Linked DNA regions of Homo sapiens. The protein of the gene in region 2 interacts with the protein of the main gene of each other region in a pairwise test. Each region holds a gene or a part of one and is shown on either strand. Other genes may lie near its edges.

The links. Proteins that work in one complex are often made in the same cells at the same time.
Region 1: the proteins of RNF32 (region 2) and MAST1 interact in a two-hybrid assay, tested with the Homo sapiens proteins (one study listed by BioGRID).

Annotation. Positions count from the first base shown.
Region 1 is NC_000019.10:12,833,547-12,841,525, forward strand, and holds the start of MAST1 (microtubule-associated serine/threonine-protein kinase 1), read left to right. Parts: upstream 1-4,968; 5' UTR 4,969-5,026; coding exon 5,027-5,109; intron 5,110-6,899; coding exon 6,900-6,988; intron 6,989-7,444; coding exon 7,445-7,520; intron 7,521-7,979. Other genes in the region: RTBDN (retbindin), read right to left, coding at 1,239-1,300, 1,537-1,552. UniProt on the Homo sapiens protein: Microtubule-associated protein essential for correct brain development. Appears to link the dystrophin/utrophin network with microtubule filaments via the syntrophins. Phosphorylation of DMD or UTRN may modulate their affinities for associated proteins.
Region 2 is NC_000007.14:156,650,761-156,657,779, reverse strand, and holds part of RNF32 (RING finger protein 32), read right to left. Parts: intron 3,596-7,019; exon of another isoform or gene 3,205-3,595; coding exon 3,062-3,204; coding exon of another isoform or gene 3,045-3,061; intron 2,643-3,044; exon of another isoform or gene 746-2,642; intron 326-745; exon of another isoform or gene 240-325; coding exon 207-239; exon of another isoform or gene 89-206; intron 1-88. UniProt on the Homo sapiens protein: May play a role in sperm formation.

The DNA.
Region 1 (7,979 bases), on a different chromosome or scaffold from region 2:
GGGGGTCTCTGGGGGATGAATGTAGAGGGAATGTATCTCAGGGAGAAGGCTTCCTTTGGGGTGTTTCTTGACTGAGGGTTCTACCCCTGAGAATATCTCTCCTCTGGGGTGTCTCTTTTTATAGTGGTCTCTCGGCAGCTTGGCTCCCATGGGGGCACCAGGAGGCTCCGCCCCCCCGCCCGCCCCTTCCCCCCGCCAGCGCGGGCAGCGGTGGCTGAGCCCGGGCTCGGGCGCCCAGACGCAGTGACGGCGCCGGGCCCGCCCCACTTCGCTCCGCCCCCGCCCCCGCCACCCCTCCCCTCAGCCGCCGCCGCCGCCGCCGCCGCGGTCCCCGCGGCTTCTCACTCCCTCCCTCCTCCCTCCTCCCGCCGCCGCTACCTCCCTCCTCCCTCCCCGGGCCGAAGTCGCCGCCGCTGCCGCCATGGACGATTCGGGCCTCATCCGCCGCCGGAGGCTGCAGGTACGCGGCTGCCTGGGCCCCGGGTGGAGAGGAAGGGGTCGGCGCCCTGGGGCGGGGCTGGGCAGGAGGCGGGAGAACTTGCACTAGGGTCAGCCGGGACGCCCCCACCCATAGGTTCGGGACGCTAACCGCGGGGAACGCTGTGGCCGCGCGTCCCGCCGCGCTGGGGACCCCGCCCCTCAGGCGCCGCCCGGCGATCCAGGGAGCTGCCGGAGGGGTGCAGCCTAGCGCTCCCCCTCGAGGATCGCCTGAGGGGCGCCTGGCCCGCCCTAGGGGGATGGGGCTGGGGCCGAAGTCATCGCCCTGGCGCCTCGCCAGGCTAGGGGTGAGGGGGCGCAGAGCAAAGTTATTGCCCTAGGGCTCATGCCCCTCGGGGCCATCGGCGCCGCTGGAGGCGTAAACATGTTTGTGCGGCAACCTCGCCCCTCACCACCCCAGGAGCCCCCTCCCGAGGCATAGGACGCCCTGCGTCCCCCACGCACCTGCCTGGCCATCAGGATTCTTCCTACTGCCCTAATTGGACAGGCACCTAGACAGCTTTCTCACTCTTCATTCCACCTCCTCCACTACAACATCCGCCCCCCCACCGCGATCCTCAAGTCCAGCCCAGCTTGTGGGTGGGCGGGAGCGATTTTTAGCTCCTTGCAGCCTTAGAAGATGCTGGTCTCGAGGCTGCGCAGGCGCAGGAGCCGTGCGTCCACTGCACGGAGTGGGACACTGAGGATCGCTGTGGAGTGTGGGGAAGGCGGGGACAAACTCAGGTGTCAGGAGCTCCTACCTCCAAGGTGGGGAGGGATTCTGTAGCCGAGAAGCGTCCTCTGCTCGTCTTCAGCTGCGTTTCTGAGGGGTTAGTACGGAAGTTCAGGGTTAATACGGAGGTCCGGTCCCAAACATCCCAGAGGGGAAGGTGATGATATCTGTGCCCCAAGGCCCTGCCTGGGGTCTGGCCCTTCTGAGCCTCCTTGGGGCTCAGCCCCAGGCTTGGTAATCTGGAGTTTAGATAAAGCCGAGAATGGGCCCAGACTCAGGCTCCATCCCCAGCCTGAATCTTGGGAAAAGAGGATTCAAACCCTCACCTAGGGCTTCGTCCATTTCTAGACTCCCCTAATCCATCATTCCCGAGGTTGAAGGCCAAGGGGAGCTGATTGGTCAGTGCAGCAGGAAAAATGGTGATCAGACTGCAGGAAGGACCTTCCAGGCGTCTGGGTAACGCCGGAGCCAGACATGAGTTGGAAAACTAATTTGCTTTCAGAGCCCAGATGGCCCGATCTCCGGAGCCTAGGCCTCTCTGAAGTGCTCCCACATTCTCTCCGCCTCTCGGGGGTGGGTTAGGAGAGTGGGTTCCGAGAGAAGGGAGGCAGCTGCGGCAAAGTTAGAGCAAGTACTGCAGCAGCCAGGTTGGGTCCGCGCCGTCGGGTTTCTGAGAAAAGGGAGGAAAGAGGCGGGGCCTGCACGGTGTGTCCCCGCCCTCCAGGCCGGCGTCAACTCTCATTGGCTCAGCGCCACGCGGGACTTTAAACTCCCGCTCGAGACACCGCCCCCAACGCGGAATGCTTCCACTCACCCACCCACCCACTCAACCCCAGGCTTGCTCTGGGTCCGGCGATCCCTGTCGGAGTCCTGTCCCCACCGCTTCCCTTCTGGCGGGATTAACCACTTCGCTGCCTGGATACACCCACATACGTTGGTGCATCCTCTTAGGAACTGTCGCATCACTGCTGAGCGCCCGAGGGTCCCCTGTGTGCAGCTAGGCTCTTTTTTTTTTTTTTTTTTTTGAAACGGAGTCTCGCTCTGTTGCCCAGGCTGGAGTGCAGTGACGCAATCTCGGCTCACTGCAACCTCCGCCTCCCGGGTTTAAGAGATTCTTCTGCCTCAGCCTCGCTAGTAGCTGGGATTACAGGCTCATGCCAACATGCCCGGCTAGTTTTGTATTTTTAGTAGAGAGTGGGTTTCACCATGTTGGCCAGCCTGGTCTTGAACTTCTGACCTCAGGTGATCCACCCGCCTCGGCCTCCCAAAGCGCTGGAATTACAGGCGTGAGCCACCACGCCCTGGGATCTTATATGTAGACAGCATCCTGAGTTCGAATGCCCTGTCTGCAGTGTCAACTATTAATCCTGTGCGGGAGAAGCGGAATCCACTTGGCCGAGCGGCTCTGCAGCTGAGATTGGAGGTGGCGTCTGTTTACACTGACGCCAAAGACCCGAACTTCCGCCGCTCCAGTTTGACCCTTTCTTCGTCCCTAGAATGTTTGGGGGCGCTAGCGGGTGGGGCTGGGTTCCAGGTCTTCTTCGGGTGGTGCTTAAAAGCCCTCCAGGGGCTTACCCTCCAAGGCCGGTTACCCGGATCTGGACACCCTGGGCTCTGTGGCCAGAAAATCCAGGTCTTGATTTCGCTTGGGCCATTGCAGACACGCAGCCAGGTCGACTGGTCCTCATTCACTCCGGTCATGCAAAGACAGAGGGAAAACCTGGTTTGGATTATCGGTCACCCGTGGCTCGGGAGGGCAGGGCTGCCCTTTGGCCCCGCCTATATGTTTGTCCGTTGTACAACGGGGTGGGAGGACGCTGTGGCCCATCCTCTGTCATGCAGCATGTCCCTCCTTAATAACGCCTGTTCTCCAGACTTAGTATTTATTGAGCACTTGCTATGTGCTAGGCACCATGCTAAGGGGCTAGGCATCTGCATCAACTCCTAAGATCCTCAAGGAGACACGGGACTATTGGAAGGTCATTTGCCAAGGTCATAAAAAGCAGAATTGAGATTTGAACCTAGGCTTTTTGCTTTTAGAGATCCTAGAAATGTCTAGGACATCCCTCATTTTCCTTTTGTTGGAGTCCCCTCCAAAGGCCTTTTGAAACTCTCCCCCAAATCTTTCCACCTGCAGCCCCACTCAGTTTCCTTCCTTCCACCTCACCCTGTGGATAGAAAACTGGCTGGCAGGTGTTGCCCCTTGTACCCCATTCCTTTCCTCAGAAAAAAGCCAAGACCCCATATCTCCTGATCCCTACAGTGACTTCCTAAGAGCTTGACAAATGGAAGGTGACCTTCTTCAAATGCAGACACATAAAGTTAATACTCACTAATTATTATTATTGTCATTATAAAAAATGACTATGCGGCCATCACCTGAATTTCCATTTTTATTTTTTTATTTTTTAAACTTTTTATTATTTATTTATTTATTGTTAATTGAGAGGGTGTCTTACTCCAGCAGTGGTGCAATCATAGTTCACTATAACCTCGACCTCCTGAGCTCAAGAGATTCTCCCACCTCAGCCTCCGTGGTTCCCATTTTAAATCTCAGTTGTGAGTCACTCTACTTACCTACCCCCCACCCCCTACCCCAACTCTATGACTCTAGCTGGGAGTCAGATAGATCTGCTGAGGTGTAGATGAGTCATTCATTCTTTCAACCTTTCATTCATTCAACCTTTCATTCATTCATTGAGTACGCTAAGCTTATTCCCGCCTCCAGGCCTTTGCCCTTGCAGTTCCCTCCACCTGGAATGCTCTCTCCACAGATCCTCCCATGGCTGGCTCTTATCTTTCAGCAACCAGCTTAAAAGTCACCTCCACAGAGCAGCCCTGTCTGACAATGTGTCTCCATCCTAGCCATTGTCCATCACATCACCCTGTTTAATTTATTCATAAGACTAATTATTGTCTAAAATGATTTCGTTCACTTCTACACTAATCTTGTTTAATGTCCCCTTTACCCTATAAATACTAGTCCCAAAAGGCCAGAAACTTTTTTTTTTTTCTCCTTGAGACAGAGAGTCTTGCTGTGTTGCCCACGCTGGTGTTTCCTTGGACTCAAGCGATTCTCCTGCCTCAACCTCCCAAGTAGCTGGGACTAGAGGTGCACACCACCACACCGGACTTGTAATTTATTCACTACTGTGTCCCTAGTGCCTAGGATTGGGTCAGCATACAGTAGGTGCTCAAGACATATTTTTCAAATAATGATTCCTATTTCATTTGCACAAACACACGCTGATATGCCAACTCACTTGCCTTTATATGGCGCCCCGCCTGTGTACGTGGGCCTCTGTTGGTCTCTGAGGGTCAGGAGAGGAATCACCCAGGGATCCTCTCCCCCAAGAAACTTGGCCCGCAGTGCATGGCCAAGGGTGAAAGTGACAGTGCTGAAGAGGGGCCTGTCTTACCCTGCTTCTGCTCCTCCAGGGAGTTGATAATGCTTGTGGGCAGCAACGGCAGGTCCACGCTGACCTTCATCGTTTTGCCCCTTTGCCTTCCAGAAGGATTTGCCCCTGCCCCGGAAAAGCAGCAGGTGAGCCTGGGGAGAGACGTGGCGGGGGCTGGCCGCCCCTTCTCCCGCCGGGGTGGGGGCGCCAGGCGAGTGCGCGGGCGGGGCCTGGCTCGCCGGCACGCAGCAGCGCCCCCTCCCGGCCGGCTGCAGCCGCAGGGCCCTCCCCTTCCCTGCCCTCCCCTGCCCGCTGCGGCGGCTGCAGCCTCCGCCCCGCGCGCTTGCTCCCCGCGCCGCCGCCGCCGCCGCCTCCGCCGCTGCTGCCGCACCTGCCACCATGTCGCCGCCGCCGGGTCATGTCTGACTCTCTCTGGACCGCGCTTTCTAATTTCTCGATGCCCTCCTTCCCCGGCGGCAGTATGTTCCGCCGCACCAAGAGGTAGACCCCCGATCCCCTAGACATTGTCCCGGCCCTCCCCGCAAAAGCCGCCGCTCCGGGTACTGCTGCAGGGCGGGGCCCGGGATGCTGCGCCCGGTCCAGCTGCGCCAGAGGTGCCCCAGCTGCGCCTTCCCGCCGGGGTTGGGGTTGAATGGGGGGTGGTGTGGGCCGAGTCTGGGGGGCTTGCACGCTGGAGAGGACGGCCGCGGGGGGAGGGGGCTGCGCCACTGGGGGTTTGTGGCGCCTTTGTCTGCTGGCGCTGCGGGCTCCAACAGCCTGGTGGGGGTAGAGGAAGAAGGGGAGGCTGGGGGGCTTGGCACCCTCAGAACAATAGCCGCAGCCTGGCCTCCCCCCACCCCCATGCCGCGTGCTCCTGGACGCGCTAATATGCTCAGTCACTGCGGCTGTGGGTGAGGGGACGGACGGAGGGGCTTGGGGCTCCCTCTTCGGGAGCTGGATGCTGAGGGGTAGAAAAAAGGGGGGGTTTATCATAACACAACCCCCCCCCCCGAACACAGCCTTACACTGAAAATAGTGACACACAGCGTCACACAGGACATGATGTCACACACATACACACAACAGCCCTAGTGGCCCAGATACACTGGGAGGTGCCACACATACCTAGCCTTGCAGCTGCCACAGGTCAGAACCATGCACAGACACACAGGGGCACCACGTCGTGTACACCTAGTAAGATGTCACTTACATGGCGATCCACACACACACAGTTATGTCATCCAAGATGCAAACATGTGTTTCAATATCCCATCCATGCATCCAAGAATGTCACAACACACGATGTCATATCTAGGTATCTCACATACTATGTCACACTGACATCAGGATAAACAGATGTAGGGATCTTGCAGAGACAGAACCACGCAAAATCACATGTTATCACATTGCAAGACTCACCTAGAGAATGTCAAATGTGGTGACATGTTTGGACACAGTGTCACAAGATGTTAAATTCACACAATAGATGCTACATACACATGGACAAGCATGGTGAATGTCACACCCAGACGGAAGGACAGTATCGGACACAGACTCAGAATGCCACACAAAGACATAGATACATGTAGGGGGGATCATGCATCCTGGCCAGGCATGGTGGCAGGCACCTGTAGTCCCAGCTACTCAGGAGGGTGAGGTGAGGCGGGAGGATTGCTTGAGCCCAGGAGTTTGAGGCTGCAGTGAGCCACTGCACACTGCACTCCAGCCGGGCGACAGAGCGAGACATTGATTTAAAAGAAAAAAAATAATAATAATACAACCTGCCTGTGTTACAGCACACATTGTTATGGACAAGTGGCATTTCACACTGTGTCACATAGACACACAAATGCTCAAATTGTATCACACAAGATAAACCCACGTTGTGTCACACGTATCACACTAGAATGCATTCAGCGTCACACATTGTTGAATTCATACAGTGGATACCACACGTGGATACCTACAGTGAATGTCACGCATAGACTGAGACACGCTCAGTATCACCAATGGTGTCACCTAGACACAGTGACTATCACACCATGACAGACACTGCCCTACACATAATCCATACTGAGAGTTTCTCACACACATGTCATATGCACATCCCCTGCCGTACACAGTCCTGCCGAGGCCTGCACCACCTTTCTTCGAGAAACCCTCCCAGGGAGCCTCCAAACACACATGGATGGGAGATAGGCGGGGATCTGAGACAGGAGGTCAGCTGGTGGGGCTCAAGAACTCACTGGGCTGCGGCCCGGCCCGGCCCCCCTGCCTTACCTTCCCCGCAGCTGCCGCACCAGTAATCGGAAAAGCCTCATCCTGACCAGCACTTCACCCACGCTACCGAGACCCCACTCCCCGCTGCCAGGTCACCTAGGTGAGGCCAGTGGTAGAGACTTGGTGGGTGCAGACTGGCCTACAGTAGGCGGGGCCTCAGGCGAGGAAGCGTGGTCATGCTACAGAAGGGGCGCAGTTTGAATGGAGGCGAACCAGTTTGGATAAGGGGCGGGGCCATGCTTGTGTGGGTGTGGTCAGTCGCAGAGGGACGGTCATTGGGGGGCGGAGACTCAGGTGGGCGGAGACTCAGGTGGGACGGACAGAAAGGAGGAGTCGTACCTGAGGGGCGGGGCCATCCCAGATGAAGCCAGAATCGTCTTGGAAGGGGCCAGGCTGACTCGGCAACGAAAAAATTTAGAGAGGCGGGGCCACAGGCGAAGGGGCGTGGTCTCCCCATAATAGGCGGGACTAGACTAAAGACAGGACATGCTGCTGTTTGCACGCCGCTTTAGGGAACGAGAGACCTGACAGGATTTGCCCCCTCTTTCTCTCATAGGCAGCAGTCCCCTGGACAGCCCCCGAAACTTCTCCCCCAACACCCCCGCCCACTTCTCGTTTGCCTCCTCCCGAAGGTGAGTCCCTCCCCTCCAGGGCCCCAGAACCCTGGGCAGACCCTCCCCAACCACTGTCTGGGCCGCCATCTGTTCTCCTCCTAATTGCACCCGAGCTGGGGCCTGAGGGGACCAGCGAGTGCCCCAAGGTCTCAGCGGGAAGGAGCGCCTAGCCTTCGGGGCGGGGCCTATAAGAAGGCGGGGTCCAATCGCCGATCTGGAACGGGGAAGGCGGTGGGGCTCCCTTTGCGGCAGGTCGAAAGCGCGTGCGCCCTGGGCGCGGGGTCTTAGTCTCTCCGAGCCTTGCTCTCCTGGCCAGGTGTTTCCATAGCAACAGGACGGGGCAGCCAAGATGACGTGCGCAAGCGCAGATTGCGCGATGCCTATCGAGGGACTCTTGGTCCCCGAGGTGGGGGAGGACGACTAGGGCTGTTTCTCAAGGGGAGGAATCTCAGGTTTCTTTCCAAGGGTCTCTTAGGG
Region 2 (7,019 bases):
CATTTGTGGTTCTTTTGTCACAAAACTCATGATTTTCAAAATAGGATGAATTGTACTGCAGCCTACAGTCATGTTTCTTTAACTATAGATGGTGGTGATGAATAAAATAAATGGCTCTCCTTAGGAGCCTTGAAAATGACTATGGTTTCTCTGCACTGTGAGAGCGACATGTGCAGCACCTGGGCAGGCGTGAGGGGTGGACTTACTTTGTGGAACACATGGGAGCATGAAAGCAGCACCTGTTCATGAGGAAACAGAACGACGTTGAAGTTTACAAAAGAGAAGCAGCATGTATCCAACAGTTAAAATCCTGAATGCTTAGAAGGTAAGCTGTATTATTTCTTTAAAAAAGCAAATTAATAACTTTGATATTTATACTATTTATTGTTTGTTTAGCACAGCACAAGTATATACTCTAAATAACAAAAATTCATGATCTGAAATATCAAATAAACACATGAAGTTTGATATTTAACTATTAAAATGAGTGTATACTTAAGAGCGAAACAATGACAAAATGAAAGTTTCCCTTAGATGCGGGCAGTGACTGCAAACTGGAGGGGTGAGGAGGGGGGCCTGTCCAGTGGGGCCAGGGAAACGCTAAGTAAATACCATTTAGGTCTTTGTTCAGCTCAGTTATGCCCCCCAATTTTTGTGAAATCATAGCTCTACTGAGATATAATTCTGACAGTCTTAAATTTAAATAGCAACAAATCATGGAGTCTTTTTTCTTTTTTAAATGCAGGGAAAGTGTGCTCACAAGAAAACTTCACCTTTCTGTGACCCAAATTCCCCACTAAACAGTGATATACTGGGCTGTGACAAAAGACTGAAGCTTAGACCAAATGAAGAAGAAGGCAGTGGGTACTTAGTAGAAGGGACAGCCGCCAGCCCACCAGCGCCAGGCCCTGCGGGCTGCCACACAAAGGCCAGGCTCCTGCTTCCCTTGGGAGGGGCTGCTTTCAGCAACGGGGAGGAAAGCAGGGGAAACTTGTGAGACTGAGCAAAGCGGTGGGGTCAGGCGAAGGGTTTTCCCTTTTTGTCAAGAATCTGACTTGGGTGACCACAGTCTGGGGCACTCCTGGGTGAGGTTTCAATCTCAGCCGGCCCAGGATGCCTGCTGTGGGGAAAACTTAACAGTTTTTAAAGTGAATCCCACCTGCCTTCACTCAATGTATGCTTTTCTTCTTAAATGGAAGAAATACAGAAATAACTAGAACTCAGAAAGTTGTAAAACCTTTTCTTGAAACTTATTGCCAAGAGTAAGTCTGAATTGAATAAACTCAGTAATAGGGTCCTTTTTCATTACCACCATTTAATAGCAATCTTTTCTATACTTAATTCATTCTTTATAGAATACTTTTCAGTGTTTTATCAACATATATTCTATCTATATGGAGCAACATTAGACGTCAGTATATTAAAGTGTTATCTTTTTAAGTGTCCCCAAATATTTGTTATTGGCAAACATTCTCTGATGTAACAAAAATCAAGGATTAAGTAGTGGAAAACACACTAAAAATGGCCTAGAAGTTAGGATTGGATTCCAGCAGGACTCTGATACTTTCTGCGTCGGCCTACTATGAGTCATTTGAATTGTTTTTATTCCCTCATCTGCTAAATGGGCAGAATGCCTACTATACGGAATTAATTGAAGGCCCTCTGAAATCACTAAATGTTATAAAAATGCCAACTATTGTTTATAACTAAGGAAAAATCTGAACATGGAAATGATCACTGGAAATGCAAAATATACAGGATGGGTCTTATATCAAAACCAAGTAAAAATAATGGAATTTAGTGAGAAATTTATAAAAATCAGAAAGAAATGTTGGGCAGGGTACACCCTGATCCCCATAAGATAGTAACTTTCACTTTTCATTCTTCATACAGACACTCGGGTTGGATATTTTAGTATAAGTAAGAAAGAGGGTGCTTAGCCAGAAAGACACCCTCTGGCTTTATTCACAGTTTTGCTACATTAAATTACTAAATTATCCTAGACAATTTGTGGTTTCAGGGCTAAAATCTGTCCAAAATACCCAACTTTCACATATGTAAGATTAGGTCCTGATAGAGAACTGGAATATAATAAGTATGTCTAAAGTAACTTATGAATTCAAATTAGTGAATAGAAGTGTAACTGTTGTGAGCTTTCTTGCTGATGAAACCTACTCAAATTCAATGAAGACTCAGAGTTCATTTGCCCAGATTGTAATAAGCCTGGGTTCCTAGGCTACAAACTCCAAGGCTGATTTTAACTGTATTTGCTGTGTTTTCTCAGCAAATCTCTGAGGGCCTGCTATGCAGGAAGCGTAATGCCACACCACGTGGGAAATTGTTACAGGGCAACCACGCACGCACGTGCACGCACACACACACTTCTGATAAATCTAAGTGTCCCCAACTTCAGGGGACAATAGTTTAGTTAGGCAGACAAAATATGTATAGAAAAAACCCTATATGCATTCTCTCTCTCTCTCTCTATATATATATATGCATTCTCTCTCTCTCTCTGTGTGTGTGTGTGTGTGTGTGTGCGCGCGCGTGTATATTATCTGTTAACCCAGAGTAGTATCATCAGTCTTACTATGGTAAAGTTTCATGAATAAAAATCATTAAAAGATTTTACTTTTCTTAAAGATTCTCTCACAAATTCTTTGGAGACATTCAAGCACAGTTTTTTTTTTCTTTTCTGACTCAAATCACAAAACCACTTAAGAGTCCCTCTGCTTTCATCCTTCCCGCGCTGGGACACAGCTGCTCCTGGGAAGCCCCCCAGTTGTCTGCACAGCCGCATGGGGCCTGTTGAACAGAAACATTCCTTTTGTACAAACTTTAGTACTTGAGAATACCAGTTAGTAAACAAACAAAACTATTTAATGAGGGTGTTTAGCTCTTCACACACTTTAATTAATGGAAAACAAAATGGAAGTGTGTGAGGCTCACACAGGAGGATGAAACTGGAAAAAGGAAGCTTGGAATCTTAGGCTCCAGCTCTGGGCCTCGTCCCTAGGAAACAGCCCAGGAGCTCTCTAGCTCACCCTCGTATGCTAAACACCTGAGGACGAAGCTCGAATTCTTCTTTACAGATGGGGCATGGTTGCACGGAGTCCCCTTGCAGGAGAGAGCGCTGTTTCACCTTCTCCCATTCATCTGATGACAGTGGAGGTGGTGGAGGCCCAATGAGGCCCAACTTCTGTGCTAAAGTAAGACAGCACAGGACAGGAGTTAGAGTGTCTTTTAGCATATGGCACCCACCTATAACTTTAATGACACCATTTGCAAACAAAGATTAAAGAACTACATATAGATCACATACTTTATTTCACAATAGAAGCTGTCCATTGGTATCCACAGGGAATGTGTTCCAGGACATTCCAAGGATGCTCAAGTCCCTGATAGAAGATGGTGGAGTATTTGCATACAACCCATGCATATCCTCCTGTATACTGCCAGTCATCTCGATTACCAATAATTCCTAATGCAAGTGCTATGTAAATAGCTGTTATACTATATTGTTTTTAATCTGTATTATTTTTATTATATTGTTGTATTGTTATTTTTTATTCATTTATTAAAATTTTGATCTGTGGCTGGTTGAATCTGTGGATGCCAAACCCACGGATACAAATGGTGGACTGTATATAGGATGCCGTTTTTCTATGAGGGCGCAAAAGTCAGTGGTAATAATACCTGACATTTTCAATACGTTTATTTTTTATTTACAAAGCATTTCCCATATCTTATTTCATTTCCCAATAACTCAATAAGGCAAGCAGGAGTGATATCCAAGTTTATGAAAGAAAAACTGAGGAATACTCATTGTTCACACGTATTGGCCCAAGTTTCTCCCAGTTCTCACCTGCCTCAGCCCTCAGCCTTCAGCACTGCCTCTCCCAGCTCACCTTGCTCTGCCACCAGTGGCCTCTACATCAATCTGCACCTCCCCTGCTAAAAACTTTCTATGACGTATCATCACGGTCAGAATAAAGTTCTTATTTCAATAACACGTGGGTACCCACCATGTGCTGTCTCGGCATCGAGCTGATAGTGCGGTGGGAAACACTCACTTTGAAAAAGCAACTGCAACATCCTCAGGCAAAATGCAGGAAGCGAAGTTCACCTTCCACCACCTCCCCGCACCCCAAAGACGGGTCAATGCATAAAAAAGCATCGACTTACAAGGATATCTTCAGAAATGGAAGACAAAATGTTACATCGACAAAACATGACAGAAAACTATGAAGGGACACTTTCGAGTACAGAAAGAGCTCTTGGGCTTTTAGAGTAGAAATGTGAACGTCCACTGAAAGGCTGGAAGAGAAAGCTAAGATACAGTCCTGAGATGCTTAACAACAGGCGATTGTTGTTAAGAAATGTGCTGTTAGGCGATTTCGTCATCTTGCTAACATCACAGCATATGTATACATGCTTAGCTGGTACAGCCCACCACACACCAAAGCTACACGGTACAGCTGATTAGACTACACACCTGCACAGCATGTTACTGTACTGAATACTGCAGGTAACTGTAACACAATGGTAAGGATCTGTGCTTCCAAACATGGAAAAGGTATAGTAAAAATATGTATAAAAGATTAAAAATGGTGTACCTGTGTAGGGCACTCACCATGAATGGAGCTTGCAGGCCTGGAAGTTGCTCTGGGTGAGTCAGTGAGTGAGTGCTGAGTGAGTGTGAAGGCCTAGGACATGACTGTACACCACTGTAGACATCATAAACAGTCTACACTTACGCTACACTAAATTTATAAAAATATATTTTCTTTAATAATAAATTAAAGTTAGCTTCCTATAACTTTTTTACTCTCTAAACTTTTAAATTTTTTACAATAACATTTAGCTTAAAACAGTATGTTGTCCAGGCTAGCACGTAGTGATGTGGTCATGGCTCACTGCAGGCTGTGTCTCCTGGGCTCAAGCTATCCTCCCACCTCAGCCTCCTGAGAAGCTGGGACCAAAGGCACACAATACCATGCTCAGCTAATTTTTCAGTTAATACAAAATATTTTCTTTCTTATCCTTATTCTATAAGCTTTTTCTATTTCTCAAATCTTTTTTTTTTAACTTTTTTGTTAAAAACTAAGACACAAACACACATATTAGCCTAGGCCAACACAGGGTCAGAGTCATCAAGACGTCATGAAGTGGTAGGAATTTTTCAACTCCATTATAATTTTATGGGAGCACTGTGGTTTATTGTTGATTGAAACATTGCTATGTGGCACGTGACTGTAATCTCACAGAAAAACATATATCAGGAGACAGAAAATAAGAAAATCAAGGGACCGGTCTAGGTGTTGTTGTGACATCTGAAAAACTGGCATTTTAGAAAGAAAACATGGAAAATGGGGAGTAAAAATTTTAAAGAAAATAGTCCAAAACATCTCCCAGAAGCAAAGGACATGAGCTTCTGGTTTGAGAGGGCCCAGTAAGTACTCAGAACATCGAATCCCGTCACTGTGAGAATCTCGGAGACAGAAAGCAGACTCAAAAAAACAGGCCTCAAAAAAGGATCAGGAATCAGAACTGCATCAGACTCATCCACAGCACAACAGACAGGAGAAGACAATTCCTTCAAAATTCGGAGGAAGGAAAGATTTCCATATCAAGATTCCTTATTAGCTATCAATCAAATGTGAGAAAAGAGCAAAGACATTGTTACACATGTGAGCTTCTGTGTGGGTCTCCTCCGCACTCCTCCAGGGAGCTACTGACAGAGAAGCGTCGCCACTACGAGGGAAGAAACCAAGGAGGAGGCCGCCATGAGGTCCAGGGAGACAGAATCCAAGGAGAGAGCCCAGGGTCCCGGGATGCTGCTCAAGAGGGAGCCCGGGGAGGGGCCGGGGGAGGGGACCACGGAGGATTCCAGAAGCAACGTCCCCATTGATAAAGTGCCCTGGTATATTTTAATGTATTGAGATAATGTATTTCTGGAGGAGATTTTAGGGATGAATCAGTGATGAGTGATGATAGAGGAAACTAAAATGTGAAAAAATGAGACAGAACTTCAGGTAGAATAGAAAAATGTCTGAGAAGGAAACTGTAATATAGAACACCACATTGCTCAGCTGTGAGTGAAGTCACGGAATTGTAACAGAGTAAACACTGAATGTTATTAGTCTAACCACAAGTTATGAAAACAATATGCTAAATCTCGATCTTCTGCAGTAAGAAGAGATATCCAGAACTGAAAATTAACAAAACAGCAGCGTAGACATGTTATTTAGAATTATTAAAAATATGGCTGGGCATGGTGGCTCACGCCTGTAATCTCAGCACTTTGGGAGGCCGAGGTGGGTGGATCACCTGAAGTCAGGAGTTCGAGACCAGCCTGGCCAACATGGTGAAACCCCGTCTCTACTAAAAATACAAAAATTAGCCAGGTGTGGTGGCACACACCTGTAATCCCAGCTACTCAGGAGGCTCAGGCACGAGAATCGCTTGAACCCGGGAGGTGGAGGTTGCAGTGAGCCGAGATTGTGCCACCGCACTCCAGCCTGGGCATCAGAGCAAGACTGTGTGTCAAAAAAAAAAAAAAAAGAAATATTAAAAATAATACCAGAAGAATGAACCAAAGGATTTGAAAATGGCTGCCTTAGAGTAATGCCCAAAATGGGTCAGGGGAATGCTACACTTTCTGTTATAATCCTCATAGAACAATTTTACTTCTAAAACTATGCCCATGGATCTTCTGATAAGAATCAAGCAGCTACAAGTGTGATGAACGCTATGGAGAATGGTGTGCAGGATGCATGGGGCTGTGACCCCAGAGAAGGTTACTTGACCAAAGTGGCATTAAATGGAGACCCGCAGGGTTAAGAGTAACAGCAGCAGGTGAAGGGGGAGGTTTTCTAGATGGAGGAAAAGGATGTGCAGATGGCCATTAGTGAGAGAGCACCTGGCCTGCAGAGAAACAAATGAACAGTAAGACTGAAGAGGCTGAGACTGAGGTTGCGGAGGAGGGGCGCTGCCTCAGGGCAGCTCTTTGCCTTTGG